2 separate regions of the Homo sapiens genome follow, and region 1 is linked to region 2. The links come from fine-mapping of genetic effects on gene expression. Tissue or cell type: whole blood. Region 2 holds a variant in brackets; the other region holds the start of a gene. All regions are shown on one strand. Distances are from middle to middle.

The links. PIP is the estimated chance that this variant, and not a neighbour inherited with it, causes the effect.
Region 1: EFCAB13 starts here. The variant in region 2 is fine-mapped to the expression of EFCAB13 in whole blood (INTERVAL, PIP above 0.99).

The regions. Positions count from the first base shown.
Region 1 is chr17:47,320,552-47,328,634 of GRCh38, reverse strand. EFCAB13 (EF-hand calcium binding domain 13) reads right to left here and starts at 4,680. Exons shown (of 25, transcript NM_152347.5): 1 at 4,561-4,680; 2 at 4,112-4,181; 3 at 2,248-2,409; 4 at 252-366. The coding sequence starts at 281. EFCAB13-DT (EFCAB13 divergent transcript) reads left to right here and starts at 4,734. Exons shown (of 3, transcript NR_110880.1): 1 at 4,734-4,946. RefSeq lists enhancers at 3,892-4,071, 4,112-4,201 and a silencer at 4,542-4,951.
Region 2 is chr17:47,718,913-47,727,002 of GRCh38, reverse strand. No RefSeq gene overlaps it. Among named protein-coding and RNA genes, the nearest start is that of TBX21, 10 kb to the left of the region's middle. The variant T/C (reference allele first, on the strand shown) is at 4,061.

The sequences.
Region 1 (8,083 bases), 400 kb after region 2:
ATCCAGGTCCGTACCCCACCAAAATACTCTCATCATACACCACAGAAGATCTCTCAGTATTATATGGGTTGTAGGGATGGGAGTTCAATACATGTTCACTAAAATGACTCAAACATCATCTCAGTTACTTGGCCAGGTTCCTTATAACTATTACTCTATGAATTTGCTTACTGATTATGAATATGAGGTAATGTAAACTAATTTTAAAAAGAAGAAAGAAGAAATCTTTAGAAACTGTTTTAAATAAATACCTGGCAGAATAAATGTACTTTAGTTTCCATCTTTCTGTTTAGAGGTAAATTCTGTCCTTAAGGACTCCAGGCTTTGATGAACAAGTATGAATGAGCAATAGTACAAAAGGATTTCCTGCCAAAAAAAGAGAAAGAAGAAATCATACGCTTGTTTAGAACACTTAAGCAATTATATTTACCTACCTGAAGTTATCTCTTCAATGTAACACTGACTTGGGGTATGATACACAACATTTCACCAACACAGATATGTGGGCAAACACTAGAAAAAGCAGTTAGTAGACTATAAATCACAGATCATCCAATTCCTTAACTTTACCTTTTGTGGTTTGAGAAATCCAGTTTCAAATGGCATACAAAGCTGAGAAATCCAATTACATCTGTTTATTTAAATAAACCCTGAGAAGCAGAACTGCTAAGACAGTAGTAATCACTCATGTTACTGAATGCTTACTGTGTGCTAAATATCATGATAAAGACTTGAAGAGGTCAAGTTTCCCAAGATCACACAGCCAGCAAATAGTAGAGACAGAATTTGAATTCAGACAATTTAACTCCAAGCCTGTGGTCTTCAGTCCCATAGAACATTGCCTTTCAAAACAATGCTACTGCAAACAAAAGATGGTGTAGGCCGGGCGCAGTGGTTCACGTCTGTAATCCCAGCACTATGGGAGGCCGAGGTGGGCGGATCATGAGGTCAAGAGATTGAGACCATCCTGGTCAATATGGTGAAACCCCGTATCTACTAAAAATACAAATCAATTAGTTGGACGTGGTGGCATGCGCCTATAATCCCAGATACTCAGGAGGCTGAGGCAGAATCGCTTGAATCTGGGAGGCGGAGATTGCAGTGAGCCAAGATCGCACCACTGCACTCCAGCCTGGGATATACAGTGAGACTGTCTCAAAAATAAAAAAAAAGGCCAGGTATGGTGACTCACATCTGTAATCCCAGCACTTTGAGAGGCCAAGGCAGGTGGATCACGAGGTCAGGAGTTCAAGACCAGCCTGGCCAAGATGATGAAACCCCGTCTCTACTGAAAATACAAAAATTAGCCGAGTGTGGTGGCACGCACCTATAATCCCAGCTACTCAGGAGGCTGAGGCAAAGAACTGCTTGAACCCAGGAGGCAGAGGTTGCAGTGGGCCAAGACCACGCCACTGCACTCCAACCTGGGTGCAAGACTCTGTATCAAAAAAAACAAAACAAAAGAAAACAAAACAAAATAAAGAAAGAAAAGATGGTGTAGCCTCACTTCAAACTCAAGACTTTCACATTATGCAAATGTGATAACCAACACTTAGAAATTCCTCAAATTTTCATATTTTCAACTCACATCTGAGTTACATTTTATGAGCTATTTATCACAGTGCTAGCTATATTACATTATATTACATTGCTAGTTATAATCATCAGTCTTTTTCTTGTAAAGTTTAACTGCAAGTATTAATATTCTAATGAAGACAGAGTACTTAAAATCATTTTTATTTATTTCTGACATATGTTTATAGTCATTATTTTTCAATGTGATATGTCCAACATTCCTGGAATTCAAAATATGTTAAAATAAAATAGAACCACATTGAAAATACTCATCTCAGAAAATACTGGAAATCTATGCAGGTCTCCCCAGTAACCCATCCTACGTAATCTCTTCTAGATCTTCTCCAACCAGTTCAATATTTACCTCTAAACTACTGTGCATAGCACTTACTGCCTTCACTATTCTTGTCTTCACTATTTAACTGACATTAATCATTTGCCTTGTATTTGTATTTTTCATATGTATAGCTCCTATACCAACTATAGCCTAAATTTATAAAGAACTGGGACTGGTAACTTATCATTCTTAAAATTATTTCTCACAGTATCAAATACAATGGTATATATATAATGAAGGAAAGAGTAGAGGAAAGGAGGAATGGTATGGAGGGAGGGGAAAAGAGAGGGAGAGAGGGATGAATGAACAAATTCCCTTCCTACTAAGCTACTCACCAAGATTTCTTAAATCATCAAAGTGCTTAATTAAGCAGAGTTGACACGTTTTGAATAAATCTTGAAAGGAACAATTGTTCTGTAATTTATTGACGAGATTATCAAAAAGTTGGCAGGTCTTAATTTGCTGGATGAATCAGGTACCGCATAAGCCTCTCCAAACTTAAAAGAAAAAATTAACTTAGAAAGTCTATTCCCTGTAACTCTGACAATATAATTTTTCTCAACTATTTCAATCCTGTCTTCTATCGGTGAACTTGCAGGAACAAATCAAGAGAAATGGAGGGAGTCGTATCCCTTTTCTCCAGTCATCTATCCATTCACCTTTCTATCCATGAATTCAACGTATATGTCTGCATGCTTAGTGTGCACTAGGTTCTCTCCTAGGCTCTAGGGATATACCAATGAACAAAATATATATATGCTATATATATATATATATATATATATATATATATATATATTTTGTTTATATATATATAAAATCTGCCCTCATGAAGCTTATGTTCTAGTCAGGGAGTGAAATAATAAAATAGAAAAATAAAACATATTGTATGTTATCTGCAATAAGTACAAAAAAAAAAGTAAAGCAGGGAGGGGAATATGAAATGTAGTATAGGGGAAGAGATGCAGGGAACAGAATGGGTGGCCAAGGAAGACCTTACTGAGAGGGAGACTTTTGAGTACAGACCTGCAAGAACTGAAGTAGGGAGCTGATTAATATCTTAGGGAAGAGCATTTCAGCCAGAAAGAAAAGTAAGTACAAAAGCCCCGAGGCAAGAAGAATGTTCAAGGAATAGTGGGAAGGCCCCAGGAGGCTGAAGCAGGAGAGATCAGAGAGGCTAAGTGAAAGTGGCATATCATGGAGGACCCCTAGATGACAGTAAGAACTGTGGCTTGTACTCTGAAGGAGTGACAAGCATTGAAAGAGTTCTGAGGAGAAGGATTACATAATCTGAAGTTCTTTCTGAAAGGATCACTCTGGTTACTGTGAGGAGGGAAATCAGGTAGGTCTGGGTTCCTGAATGCCAAGTGAAGAAAGTACTTCAAGAGTGAGCAATCAGGCTGTGCATGGTGGCTTATGCAGGTAATCCCAACACTTTGATGCGGGGGTGGGGGTCTAAGCAGGAGGGCTGCTTAAGGCCAGGAGTTCAAGACCAGCCTGGGCAACAGTGAAACTCCCACCTCTACAGAATTTTTTTTTTAATCAGCTGGACATGGCGACCTTAGTCCCAGCTACTCCAAAGACTGAGCCAGGAGGATCTTTTGAGCCCAGGAGTTTGAAGCTGCAGTGGGCTATGATTGCACCACTGCACTCCAGCCTGGACGACAGAGACCTTGTCTCAAAAAAAAAAAAGGGGGGTGGGGTGGGCGGTTAAGATCAGTACTGAATGGTTCGCTAGGTTTCACAACACGGAGGACACTGACAAACTTGAAAGGAGCCATCTGGGTGGGGTGGTAAGGAGACAATGTCGTCAGAGTGAGTACAAGAGAGAACGGGGTAAAGAAATTGAACCCAGCCAGTAGGGTAGGCTCTTTCAAGGAGTTACGTTGTTAAGAGAAATAAGGCAGTAGCTGAGAGGAAAATGGGGCTGTGAGGCTTTAAGATGAGAAAAACAAAGGCGTCTTCACTGAAGCATGACTCTGTATGACATCCTTTCACAAAATACCTTCCTCTTTCCTCTCATGCCACATTTCCCTCACAAGCCGCCCGACTCGCTCGCTTTTCTCTCGCCAGAGGGACTGAAAACGTCATTAATACCAACTGCATACACAACTCCATTGCAGCTACTGCCATTCATGAACGTTCAAACTTTCGTCACCCTGTTTTCATATTTGTGTAACAAACGTCGAGTGAACGAACCTCCACCTCTTCCAAGAACCCACGCTGAGGAGGCTTCCCATAGACCCTGCTCTTACGAAGCCAACGACTTCTACAGGAAGAAAGAGGACCTGTAAGCTAGCGAGTGAACGACCCGCAAGATGGAAATGAGTGTGCTAATAGAGGTCTCCGCCTCCCGCTGAAGGAGCAGGGAAGTGACACCACCCCCGGGACCGCCAGCCTTCTACAACAACCACCATTTCTGAGGAACCACCTGATCAGTCTCAGTCACCCTTCAATCTGCCCCTTTGTCCCACTCAGTCCCCTCACTGTTCCTTTCTGGAACCTTCCTTCACCCAGCCCCACCACTGTTCTCCTTCCTCCCTCGCACCCTACTGCATTCTCCACCCTCCACCTCGAAGGCTCCCCTCCCAACTCCTCAGCGGGTCTCGCCTCCCCTCCCCACCTCTGTCCCCCAAGGGTCCCACTACCGGCCCGAGCTGCCCTCCCTTCCTCTCGGCTGGAGGCCCCCGCGCTCTCTGTGGTCAGCCCCTGCCGCCCCTCGGGCGGCGCTGCTCTAGCTCTGCAGCCTTCCCAGGATCCCGCGCCGCGCGGCCCCGCCCCCGCGGTCACCTGACCGAGCCCGACGCTCCGCCCACCGACCACCCCGAGCGGAGCGGGCCCAGGACCCTATCGGCTGTCGAGCCGGTGCTGCCGCGGCCACCGCCACCGCCCAGGGGCTCCGGGGCTGTGGGGAGCGGCTGAACTCAATACCGCCTCCGCGCTGACTGGAAGGCACTGCGGCCGCGCCTGCCTGCCCCACCTCGTAAGGGCCTGTGACCTCACGAGGCCAGCCGCCGGGCGCTGCATTCGAGCGGTGGGGCTCCTGTCCGTGCGCTTTCCTCCCGCAGCCCCGGCCGGGATTCCGCCCTCCGTCCTTGCCACCCGCTCGCCACTCTTCCCTAATCGCTGTTCATTCTCCGGTGCGCTGTCCCGCCATGGTCTGACCCCACTTCAATCTTACCTTCGGTCCGTCCTTTGAACACCCCGACCCCCGACCCCTTTCTTCCAAAACATTCCATCCTTCTTGGCTTCTGCTACTCAATAATGGACAGCAGCTCGAAGGCCATGTGTCCCACGGCTTTGCTGAAATTTGTCTCGGGTTGCCTTTAAGGAGACTGTCGTTTCCTTTTGAAAGAGATACTTTGGTTGGTTTGGTTTTCTTCTGTGTGTTTGTTTTTCCTATGTATTTATCGTATGCAGTTGGGCAAAATACTTAACGCTCCCTGAGTCTCGATTTTCTCATTCTTCCAGGGTTGTGGGAATTCAAAAATATATACGTAGTGCTCAATAAATGTTACAATATTTAATCCCTTCCGTGATACTACTGTGTTCATTTACATCTTAAACCTTGCTTTGTAGGCATTCTTTAATATTTTATTTAGATTTTTATTATTATTAAATATATGTACAAATCATAATTGTAAATATTTAATGGGGTACAATGTTATATTTTAATATATGTATACAATATGGAACGACTAAGTCAAGCTTAACATATCCATCACCTTGTTTAACGTTTTTTATGGTGAGACATTTGAAATTTACTCTTAGCAGTTTTGAGATATACGATATATTATTATTAGCTATAGTCACCACACTATGCAATAGATCTCAGAAACTTGCTGCTTTTGTCTGACTGAACCTTGTACCCTTTGAACAGCATCTCCCCATCCTGCATCTCCTACCCGCCCCGTCCCTTTCCAGCCTCTAACAACTATTCTACTGTCTACTTCTATGAGTTTGACTTTTTAAGATTCCACATATAAGTGAGATCATGTGGTATGTGTCTTTCTGTGCCTGGCTTTTTTCACTTAGTATGTCCTCCAAGTTGATTCATGTTGTCACAAATGACAGAAATTCTTTTTTAAGGCTGAATAGTATCCATTGCATATGTTGATTCATGTTGTCACAAATGACAGAAATTCTTTTTTAAGGCTGAATAGTATCCATTGCATATGTTTACTACATTTTCTTTATCCATTCATCCATCGATGGACACAGGTTGATTCCATTATCTCAGCGATTGTGCATAATGCTGAAATGAACATGGAAGTGCAAATAAGTCTTTGATATACTGATTTCAGTTACTCAATATATGCCCAGAAATAGCATCGCTGGATCATATGGTAGTTCTATTTTTAATTTTTTGGGAAACCTCCATATAGTTTTCCATAATGGCTGTAATAACACTAACAGTGTAAAAGGTTTCTCCACATCCTCAGCAACACATTTTTTTCATCATTTTGATAATAGCAATTCTTTTTTTTTTTTTTTTTTTTTTTTTTTGAGATTGAGTCACTCTGTTGCCCAGGCTGGAGTGCAGTGGCACAATCTCAAATCACTGCAACCTCCATTCCTGGGTTCAAGCAATCTTCCTGCCTCAGCCTCCCAAGTAGCTGGGATTACAAGCATGTGCCACCACACTTGGCTAATTTCTGTATTTTTAGTAGAGATGGCGTTTCACCATGTTGGCCAGGGTGGTCTCAAACGCCTGACCCTCAAGTAATCTGCCCACCTCAGCCTCCCAAAGTACTGAGATTACAGGTGTGAGCCACCACACCCAGCTTAATAGCCATGCTAACAGGTGTGAGGTGATATTGTAATCTTATTTTGCATTTCCCTAATAATAGTGATTTTTTTTTTCGCAAACCTGTTGGCCATTTGTATGTCTTCTTTTAAGAATGGCTGTGTCAGGCTGGGCATGGTGGCTCACACCCATAATCTCAGCACTTTGGGAGGCCAAGGTGGGAGGACCGCTTGAGCCCAAGAATCTGAGACCAGCCTGGGCAACATAGTGAAGCCTCATCTCTACAAAAAAAAATTTTTTTTAAAAGTCTATTCAGATTATTTGTCTATTTTTAAAATCAGGTTATTTGCTTTCTTGCTACTGAGTTTCTTGTATATCTTGGATATTAACCTCTTGTCAGATGTATAATTAGTAAATATTTTCTCCCATTCAGCAGGTTGTCTCTTCACTCTGTTAACTGTTTCCTTTGATGTGCAGAAGTTTTTAGTTTCATGTAATTCCATGTGTTTATTTTTTGTTTTCTCGCCTGTGTTCTTGAGGTCATGTCCAAAAAAATGCCCAGACCAATGTAGTGGAGCTTTCCGCCTGTTTTCTTCTAGTGGCTTTCTTCTATTTTTTCTTCTAGTAGCTTTCCCTCTATGTTTTCTTCTAGTAGTTCCAGTCTTACAGGTAAGTCTTTAATCCATTTTGACTTTTGTATACGGTGTGAGATAAGGGTCCAATTTCATTTTTCTACACATGGATATATGGTTTCCCAACAGTTTTTATCAAAGAGATTCCTTTCCCCATTGAGTGTTCTTGGCTCCTTATCAAAATTCAATTGTCTGTAAATTCTGGACTCTCTAGTATGTTCTATTGGCCAATGCATCTGTTTTTATGGAATACCATGCTGTTTTGATTACTGTAACTTTGTCGTTTATTTTAAAGTCAGGGACTGTGATGCCTTCAACTTTGTTTTTTTTTTGCTTTTTTTTTTTTGAGATGGATTCTGGCTCTGTCTCTCAGGCTGGAGTGCAGTGGCACAATCTCGGCTCACTGCAACCTCCACCTCCTGGGTTCAAGTGATTTTCCTGCCTTAGCCTCCCAAGTAGCTGGGACTAGAGGCGCGCACCACCACGCCTGGCTAATTTTTTTGTATTATTAGTAGAGACGGGGTTTTTTTTTTACCATGTTGGCCAGGCTGGTCTTGAACTCCTGATCTCATGATCTGCCCGCCTCGGCCTCCCAAAGTACTGGGATTACAGGCGTGAGCCACCACACCTGGCCCAACTTTGTTCTTTTTGCTCAAGATTGCTTTGGTTATTTGGGATCTTTTACGGTTCCATATGAATTTTAGGATTTTTTTATTTCCATGAAAAATAACTCTGGAATTTTGATAGGAATTGCATTGAATCTATAGATCACTTTGAGTAGCATGGGCATTT
Region 2 (8,090 bases):
CCACCCACCCCCTGGGGCCTCCTCTCTCCCCAAGGTTCTCTCTGGCTTCCTGGGATCTGTGGGCAGCCCTGTGTGCCCATGTCTCTCAGGGCTCCTGAGTGTCTGGGTTCCTCTGGTCTGATTCGGCCCCTCTCTGGGTCCCTGTGTTTTTGCCTGCGTCTTGTGTATCCTCTTTACGTCCACTCCTATCCCTGGGACCTGTGAGAGGTCTGCACGCTGGTCCTGAGTGTAGGTTCTGTGCCTCTGTCTGCGTCTCTGTGTCTGTCTGTTACCTGTGGGCCTCGGAACTTGCCTTGTCTCTGTAGCGTGTTTGTGTCTGTCTCTGCATCTTCATGTCACTGTCCGTGTCTCCAGGGCTATCCAGCGCTCCATGTATCTCCTGCATGTCTATCTGTCCATCTGGGACTAGGCCTCATCTGTGAGTTGGCTCTGGCCTTCCTGTGTCTGGCCTAGAGCTTTTTGCCTTGTCCACCTGGTTAATGTCTCAGGGTGCGGGTGAGACAGAGCAGACTTACGGACTTGGTTAGGGATGAATGAGAGAGGAAGAGGGAAAAGGGCATGGGTGGTATTGGGGGAAAGAGTCCCATTCCTAAATAGTGCCTGAAGCAAGCTGCCCAGCCCTGAAATGCCAGGGTGAAGCTCTGTGTGGCCAGGGGGCAAGGGAGAGAGGGCATGGCAGGGAACACACCTGCTCAGGGCTGGCAGCGGAGTTGCACAGAAACAGAAACAGACCTAGTTGGTATGTGGGGGTGGGCCCTCTACATACCAGAAACAGGACCCAGAAACAGGTGGAAAGACAAACATGGAACTCTAGGTTCTGATTCTGGCTCCGCCACTGGCGTAGATCACCTTGGGCTAGGCCCTTTCCCTCTGTGTGTCGCAGTTTTCTGCTCTGTAAAATGAGACAGCAAGGACCATCCCCTAGAATTCTGTTAGAGAGCCAGAGTGACAGAAGACATCCCTAAACCCAGGACAGAAGACTAGTTGCCCCTTTCTGTCCCTTAAGGAGGTATCCCAAAGACCCTTATAGTACCAACAGCCTCTGTGTCTGCGATTCAGCACCACTAGGGGCAGGACAGAGGGAAGAATGGAGGTTAGACAGCAGGAAGGACTTCCTGCCAAGCAGTGGGAGGGTGAGGAGGCCCCAGCTTCTCCCAGCAGTCCTCCAGGGCCCCTCTGTCAGGGCTAGGGGTGGAGGGGCAGGAGTGGGGGGCGTTCAGCAGCTGGGTAATTAGCCATCGCTCTCAGGCCCTGCGGGGAGGGGCTGGCTGGACTGAGAAACCAACGCAAAGTGACAGGGGTGGTTTTGACACGCGGTGGAGCTGACGGGCCCAGGGGGCTGGGGGTTTGGTTTGGGGGGGAAAAATCCCATCAAATGATTAAAAAATAGGTCAGAGGGAAGAAGCCACAGCCGGCACTGGGTCCGTGGTGAGAACGCCATGTCGCTTCCCCAGGGCTGTGGGCCAGAATGGGGTGGGGGAGCTGAGGAGTGTTTGCAGTGGGCGGGTGAGCTGGGAGTGGGGGCAAGAAGGCTGCAGGCCCAGCAGCTGGCCCTCTGCTTCCCTCAACCCTGTCTCACGGGGACATTTTACCTGCAGCCCACCTCCTGGCCTTCCTGTTGTACCATCTTCCTCCTCAAAGGCAGGATGCTGCAGCTCTTCTTCTGTTCCCCCTACCCCACCCACAACATATATACAAACTCCATTCCAGAAACACTGAGGCTACTGCCGCATGTGGAAGCCCTTCTTACCTTCTCACCTAGGGATCTCCTGCGCAAAGGCAGCTTGCTGACTTATCCTACATTTCTTGCCCATCTGAACTAATTCACCTGCCACTGCATCCCCTTTGCCATCTTGCCAACTCTGCAAGGGGTCCACTTTGGCCCTCCAGCTTGTTCTCAGATTGTCCTTTTCCCTCCTTCTCTCCTTTTCTGCCTTCCCAACTTCTGCCACAAATCATAACCACAGTAGCCTGGGAAAGGCAGAGAACAAGGAGGAGTGAGGTAATAGACTCAGGAGCCTGGGACAGGTTGGTGATCTCTAAGCACTTAGAGATCTAAGTAGGTGGAGGCTGATTGACTGTGTCTGCATTGTACAGCAATTTGAGATTCCTGGTAGTGTTCCCCCGATTTAGGCAGTTTACAGCCACCTCCCACCTCCTCTACTGAAGACTGGGACATTCTTTCAGCTGTCTTCCCACAACCCCTTAAATTGCAGCTTAATCCCATTTCCTTTTCTGAGGTCACTGAAACTCATGGAGAGATTAGCACCTGAAATTTGGGAGTAGAACGGAGGCCTGGGATCCACATGCCACAACTCCCTTCCTTATAAATCCTAGGCACAGGCAGAAATCAGGCAAGCAACCAGTGTGTGAAGCAGAGGGACAAACCAGGCATTAGGCTCCCAGCAGTGCTGTCTCCAGCTGAGTGGGCACCTGGGTCCCAGCCACTGGAATGGAGGACACCCAAGGCCATGTTGGCGCGAAAATGGATTGGCTAGGTCTGACCTTGAGTTTAACCCCACTTACCACCCCAGACACAGATCCGCTCTGACACACAAGTCTGAGATTTCCCCAGGAGCCTGCTGTTTGCTGCTTGCCCCGCTCAGTTACCCAGGAAGTGTCAGAAGGCGTCCAGCCTACCTCCTCCCACCAGGGCCATGGGCAGCTGGCTGGACCGAGCTGGGCACTGAGAAGGGCCCTGGACCCACGTCTCTGGCCACAGGGGACATAAAGGTGGCATGGCTGCCCAGCATTGCCCCCTCTCCTTGCTCACCGCCATTTCTTTCCAATCACTGGCATCAGAACCTGACATTCTGTGAGTTGGGAAAGGATGGTTATGGTCAGGCAAGTTCTTAGCAACTGGACCAGTAACTGGGAGTTGAGATACTGACCTCATCACCTTGCATTTCACACACATGCACACACTGAACTAGGGCCACCCAAGACCCAGGGCCCTGCAAATAGGCAGTGGGGCATGGGGCTCCCAGGTTCCCATGCATGACCCTGGATGTTGCCAAATCTAGCTTGTACTTTGTCTCAATCCTTGACTCCCAGTGAGTTTGGAAACTGTAAAAACCCCAGTTCTTCCTAATTAACCCCCTCCTCCTATCACCACTCTGGGTTGAGGGGTAAAGGATGAGATAAGAGAATATCCCGGCCAGGCATAGTGGCTCATGCCTGTAATCCTAGCACTTTGGGAGGCCGAAGTGGGCAGATCACTTGAGATCAGGAGTTCGAAACCAGCCTGACCAACATGGTGAAACCCCATCTCTACTAAAAATACAAAAAAACCTATCTGGTCGTGGTGGTAGGTGCCTGTAATCCCACCTACTAGGGAGGCTGAGGCAGGAGAATTGCTTGGACCCGGGAGGCGGAGGTTGCAGTGAGCTGAGGCTGTACCACTGCACTCCAGCCTGGGCAACAGAGAGAGACTGTCAAAAAAAAAAAAAAAAAGAACATCCCCAGGCAACTCGTACCCTTTATTTCCTTTCTTTCTTTCTCTCTCTCTCTCTTCTTTTTTTTTTTTTTTTTTTTGGTTAAGACTAGTCAATATACCTTTGATTTCATTAGACTTCACAATGGTGTGAAGGCAACTGGGTGGGAACCATTGTTCCCATTTTACAGACAAGGAAACTGAGATATAAAAAAGTTAAGTATCAGCCAGGCACAGTGGCTCATGTCTGTAATCCCAGCACTTTGGGAGGCCGAGGCGGGAGGATCACAGGGTCAGGAGATTGAGACCATCCTGGCCAACATGGTGAAACCCCGTCTCTACTAAAAATACAAAAATTACCTGGTGTGGTGGCACGCGCCTGTAGTCCCAGCTACTCAGGAGGCTGAGGCAGGAGAATTGCTTGAACGAGGGAGTTGGAGGTTGCAGTGATCTGGGATTGTGCCACTGCACTACAGCCTGGTGACAGAGCGAGACTCCATCTCAAAAAAAAAAAAGTTAAGTACCAGCTGGGCACAGTGGCTCATGCCTGTAATCCCAGCACTTTGGGAGGCTGAGATGGGTGTATCACTGGAGGTCAGGAGTTCGAGATCAGCCTGGCCAATATGG[T/C]GAAACTCCATCTCTACTAAAAACACAAAAATTAGCCGGGCGTGATGGCACATGCCTGTAATCCCAGATACTAAGAGGCTGAGACAGGATAATTGCTTGAACCCAGGAGGCAGAGGCTGCACTGAGCCGAGATCGTGCCATTGCTCTCCAGCCTGGGCAACAGACAGAGATTCTGTCTCAAAAAAAAAAAGAAAAGTTAAATACCTTGTCAAGATCACATGGCTGGTGACCTAATGAACACTTACTGTGCACTTTCCTGAGTGGAGCCTCCCACACCTGTGTGAAGAGGACACTATCGTTCCCATTTTGCAGATGAGAAGCTGGTGCTCAGAGAGGTGACACAATTTTCCCAGGCTCTCAGTTATTTTTATCCCCTGACCCTCTCTCCTTATAAGGTACCCAACCCAACCCGGGCTGAGTCCTTCTCCTTATTCCCTCTGGAGAAAGGCAAGATGGAAGGGCCCTCTATGTCACCCAGTGAGTGTTCCCCTATGTTTTGGGAAGTCATCCTGGTGTCCTAATTGACATTACCCTTCCCTCAACCCAGGCCTCTTCTCACCTCTCCTGGTGTCCTTTCTGTCTGATGACCCTGCAGAACCCGACCCCGTTACTCAGCAAATCCCATCCTGCTGATGGGGTAGGAGTGGGGAAGCAGGGCTGAGAGACCGAAAGGGGCAGGGACTAGCTTCGTCACACAGCAGCCACTGTGGCAGTGGAGGAAGATGAGTCCAGATGGGAAGGACCCAGGAGTCCTGGTTTCCAGGTGGAGTGAGAGGCAGGAGCCTTCCTCACTTCTCCAAACTCCCTGCCCCAGGCAACGGAGCCCACTGCCAGCCATCCAAGCTGTTAGGTGTTTCTGCCTGAGGAGGGAAGGGGCCTGGGCAGCTCCTAGAATGGGAAGAGAATGCCACTGGGCATGTGCCCTGCCAGGCAGTGCTTCCGTCTTTCTGCCCACGCCTAAGTTCATCACACCTTCTGCTCTGCCCTCCTGCTAATCGAACCTGCACTCTCCTCCCTCTTGCTTTTCACCTTGGGACACGTGAGCCAGTGGCCAAGAGTGAGGCAGCAGAGCCAAGTGGAGCCACCAGCTGCCTCATCCCCTCCATGCCAGCCAGACTGCCTGGGATTCTGGGGATCCCTGTATGCCCCTGCCGCAGCCTCAGCAGTAGCTCTGTCGACAGCTCTTAGGAGCTCCTGTTCCGGGCTGGAAGTGAGGAGGGGGCTTTCCTTGACAACAAACAGGGAAATGGGGGGCCCCACGCCCTGGCCCCAGGCTCTTCTTACGATCTAACCCCCTTGGGGCAGGCCCTTCTTCTCGAAGAAACCCAGGGAAGGCTTCCAAAAAAATCACCTGAGGCAGAGTCCCTTTCTTGCCCCGGGCTATAAGTTCTTCTTCTAGTCTAACCTTGATCCCTTGCAGAGGGGTGGAAGAGGGCAGAGATGAATTGCAGTTTCTTATAAACCTGGTGGCTTCTAGTTCCCCGACGACAATACAGCGGAGGAGCCCTGTGGTTCTGGCTCTGAGTCAGGCCCCATCGCCCGGGCGTCCCCAGTGCCATCTCCCTCCGCCCCTCCCCGGACTGGAAAATCAGGCTCATGCCTCTGCCGAGAGTCAGTGCTTCCCCTCCTTCCCCTCACCATCTCGCTTTCCCCTAAAGGGAGGTGTTTCCTCGAAGCAGGGAAAAGTCAAGGGGGCAGAGACCTCACCAGCCACCGGGAGGCGGCACTCGGTAGGCACGGGCACGGGGTGGGGGTGGGGCGACCCTGCCTTCCTCTCCCTTCCCCCTCCACCCCTCCAGCCCAGCTCCCCGGCCATGCTCTTCCAGACGGCTGCATGTGTGCGTGTGCACACACACTTAAAACACGTGTGTGGTTGGTATGTAGGGGGGCCCTCTAGCCCCCCGAGGGAGAGGGCGGGTGGAGGAGGGAAGGAAGGTGTCATGCCTCTGATGTGCCTATCAGTGACACAAACTTTTTCCACACGTATGTTCTTCACACGTTCTGGGTCTGCACGTGCTCATCATGCCTCCCGAGTCACATGTCTGATCGGCGTCCCGCTCCCCCGCTTGGCATTGATCCCTGGGTATTAAGCGGATTCCCTCCGCCTCCCTGTGAGGAGACCCGCCCACCTCGGGAGGGAAGGGTTGGGAATTCAGGAGTCTCTGAGGATACCGGCACCTCCCTCTCAGAAAACTGGCTCCTCCTCCCAGCAGAGGACCCTCGGCCTGGTGGGGGCAGGTCACAGACGTGCCATGCAGACCCTCAACCTTCCCATCTGTTTGAGGGCTCAAAGAGATATCAAAACTCCACCCCTAGACCCTGGATGTAGGTGGGAGAGTTTGGGGAGGGTCTCACCCCTTGGGGAAATTGAACCCAGCCGGGGAGTGGTTAGGAAGGTCTAGGTCAGCAATCAGAAGAACTCACGTGCACCTCGCTGTCAGGGGTGGGGGGAGTATGAGGGAGCCTAAACAGAAAGTGAGCAGGACAGAGGGAGAAAGAAAGAGAGGGAAAGAGAGAAACTGAGACCACGGGCAGTCACAAAGAGAGAGGAGGGCAGCGCTGGATGTGGGCAGGACCTTCTGGATAGCCGGGCAGTGTGGTGAGGGGGCCTGCGGGTCTACAAAGTGGTTGCCTTTTCCCTTTCTTCTCTAGCATCACAGATACGCGAAAGGTCAGTGCTGAGATAATCCAAGCCTTTCATCTCAAGGAGAAATCGAGTCAGAGCAAGACGGCTCAGAGCCACTAAAAGGGAATACAGAACCCTGTAGAGCCCACCCTCCTGCCTCCCAGGTTGTGAATTTTCTAACCCCATGGGGAATCAGGAGGACCCAGCACCTGGGATGTTCAGCACAGCAGGGGCAGTTCCAGCACTCTCTGCAGCTCAAGCAGCTGGGCTGCCTAGCTGGTGCCCAGGCCCTGCCAAGGGGACCCATGATACCCAGTCCCACTAGCAGCATCAGCAGCTTAGCTACCCCGAGAACTGGGACCAGAAGAGGCATGTTGAAAGGAGACTCTTTTGATGACCCAGGCGTCCTCCACCCCAACCCCTCCCCACTCCAAGCTGCTGGGTGTGCAAGCCCAGGGATACTGCTACCTCCACCTTGGTGACCCCCCAGCTCCTGAACCCACAGACATTGCGAGACACAGTGCGCGCAGGCCCTGCCACTTGGGAACTCAGACCCTAGCAAAAGCCTCCAAAGAAAACAATGTTCTGTCTTGGCCTCTGACTCCCCTGAAAATCTGGGGGGCTAATGGGAGGGACTTTTAACCCCCTTAGTCATCCTAGGAAGCCAAGCTGAATAGCAGTGACTGATAGTCACCCGACCACAAGCCAATTTTGCGGTTTCAGTTGTTTTCAGAAGGAGCAGCAAAGCAGTGGCAGGAGGCCCTGGGCAGAGGAGTGGGCTGACTCCCGGACCCCAGCCCCTGCCCAGAGCACTCTGCCCTAGCACGACCCAGCCCAAGGCTCAGCAAGACCCAGAACTGCACCCACTTTACAGATTCACACAGACAGGGTTTGCAACAACCAGAAACAGCCTTCTGTATCCCCTCCATGTACCCCTGGCTACTTTACTGGCAAGGCTGGCTGCTTTCTGCATCCACGATGAGCCCTTTTGCTTTGCTTTTCTCTTTTGTTTTCCTTCATTTCCCCTCCTTTCTTCTTTCATATCATTTCACTTCCTTTCTCTTTCCCTCTTTCATTTTTCTTTCCTTCCCTCTTTTCTTCCTTTCCTTTCTCTTCCTTCCTTATTCCCTCCTCTCTCTCTCCTTCTCTCTCTGCCCCTGCCCCATTACATGTGTGCCTGGCAGGAATAATCTAGGAGTCACAACCAAGAGCAGAGGCCCCTGAGTCCCCCAGGTATACTCCCGAACCACATCTGTCACCTCCCTCATGAGCTACAGGGAAAGAGATCAAGATTAGCTCTAAGGGAAGCTTCCTGCTGAGTGGAGTTTGGAGTAATCTCAGAAATATAGAATGCCAAAATGTCAGAGCCGTGATGGAAATTAAACCACCTAGTCCACTGAGGAA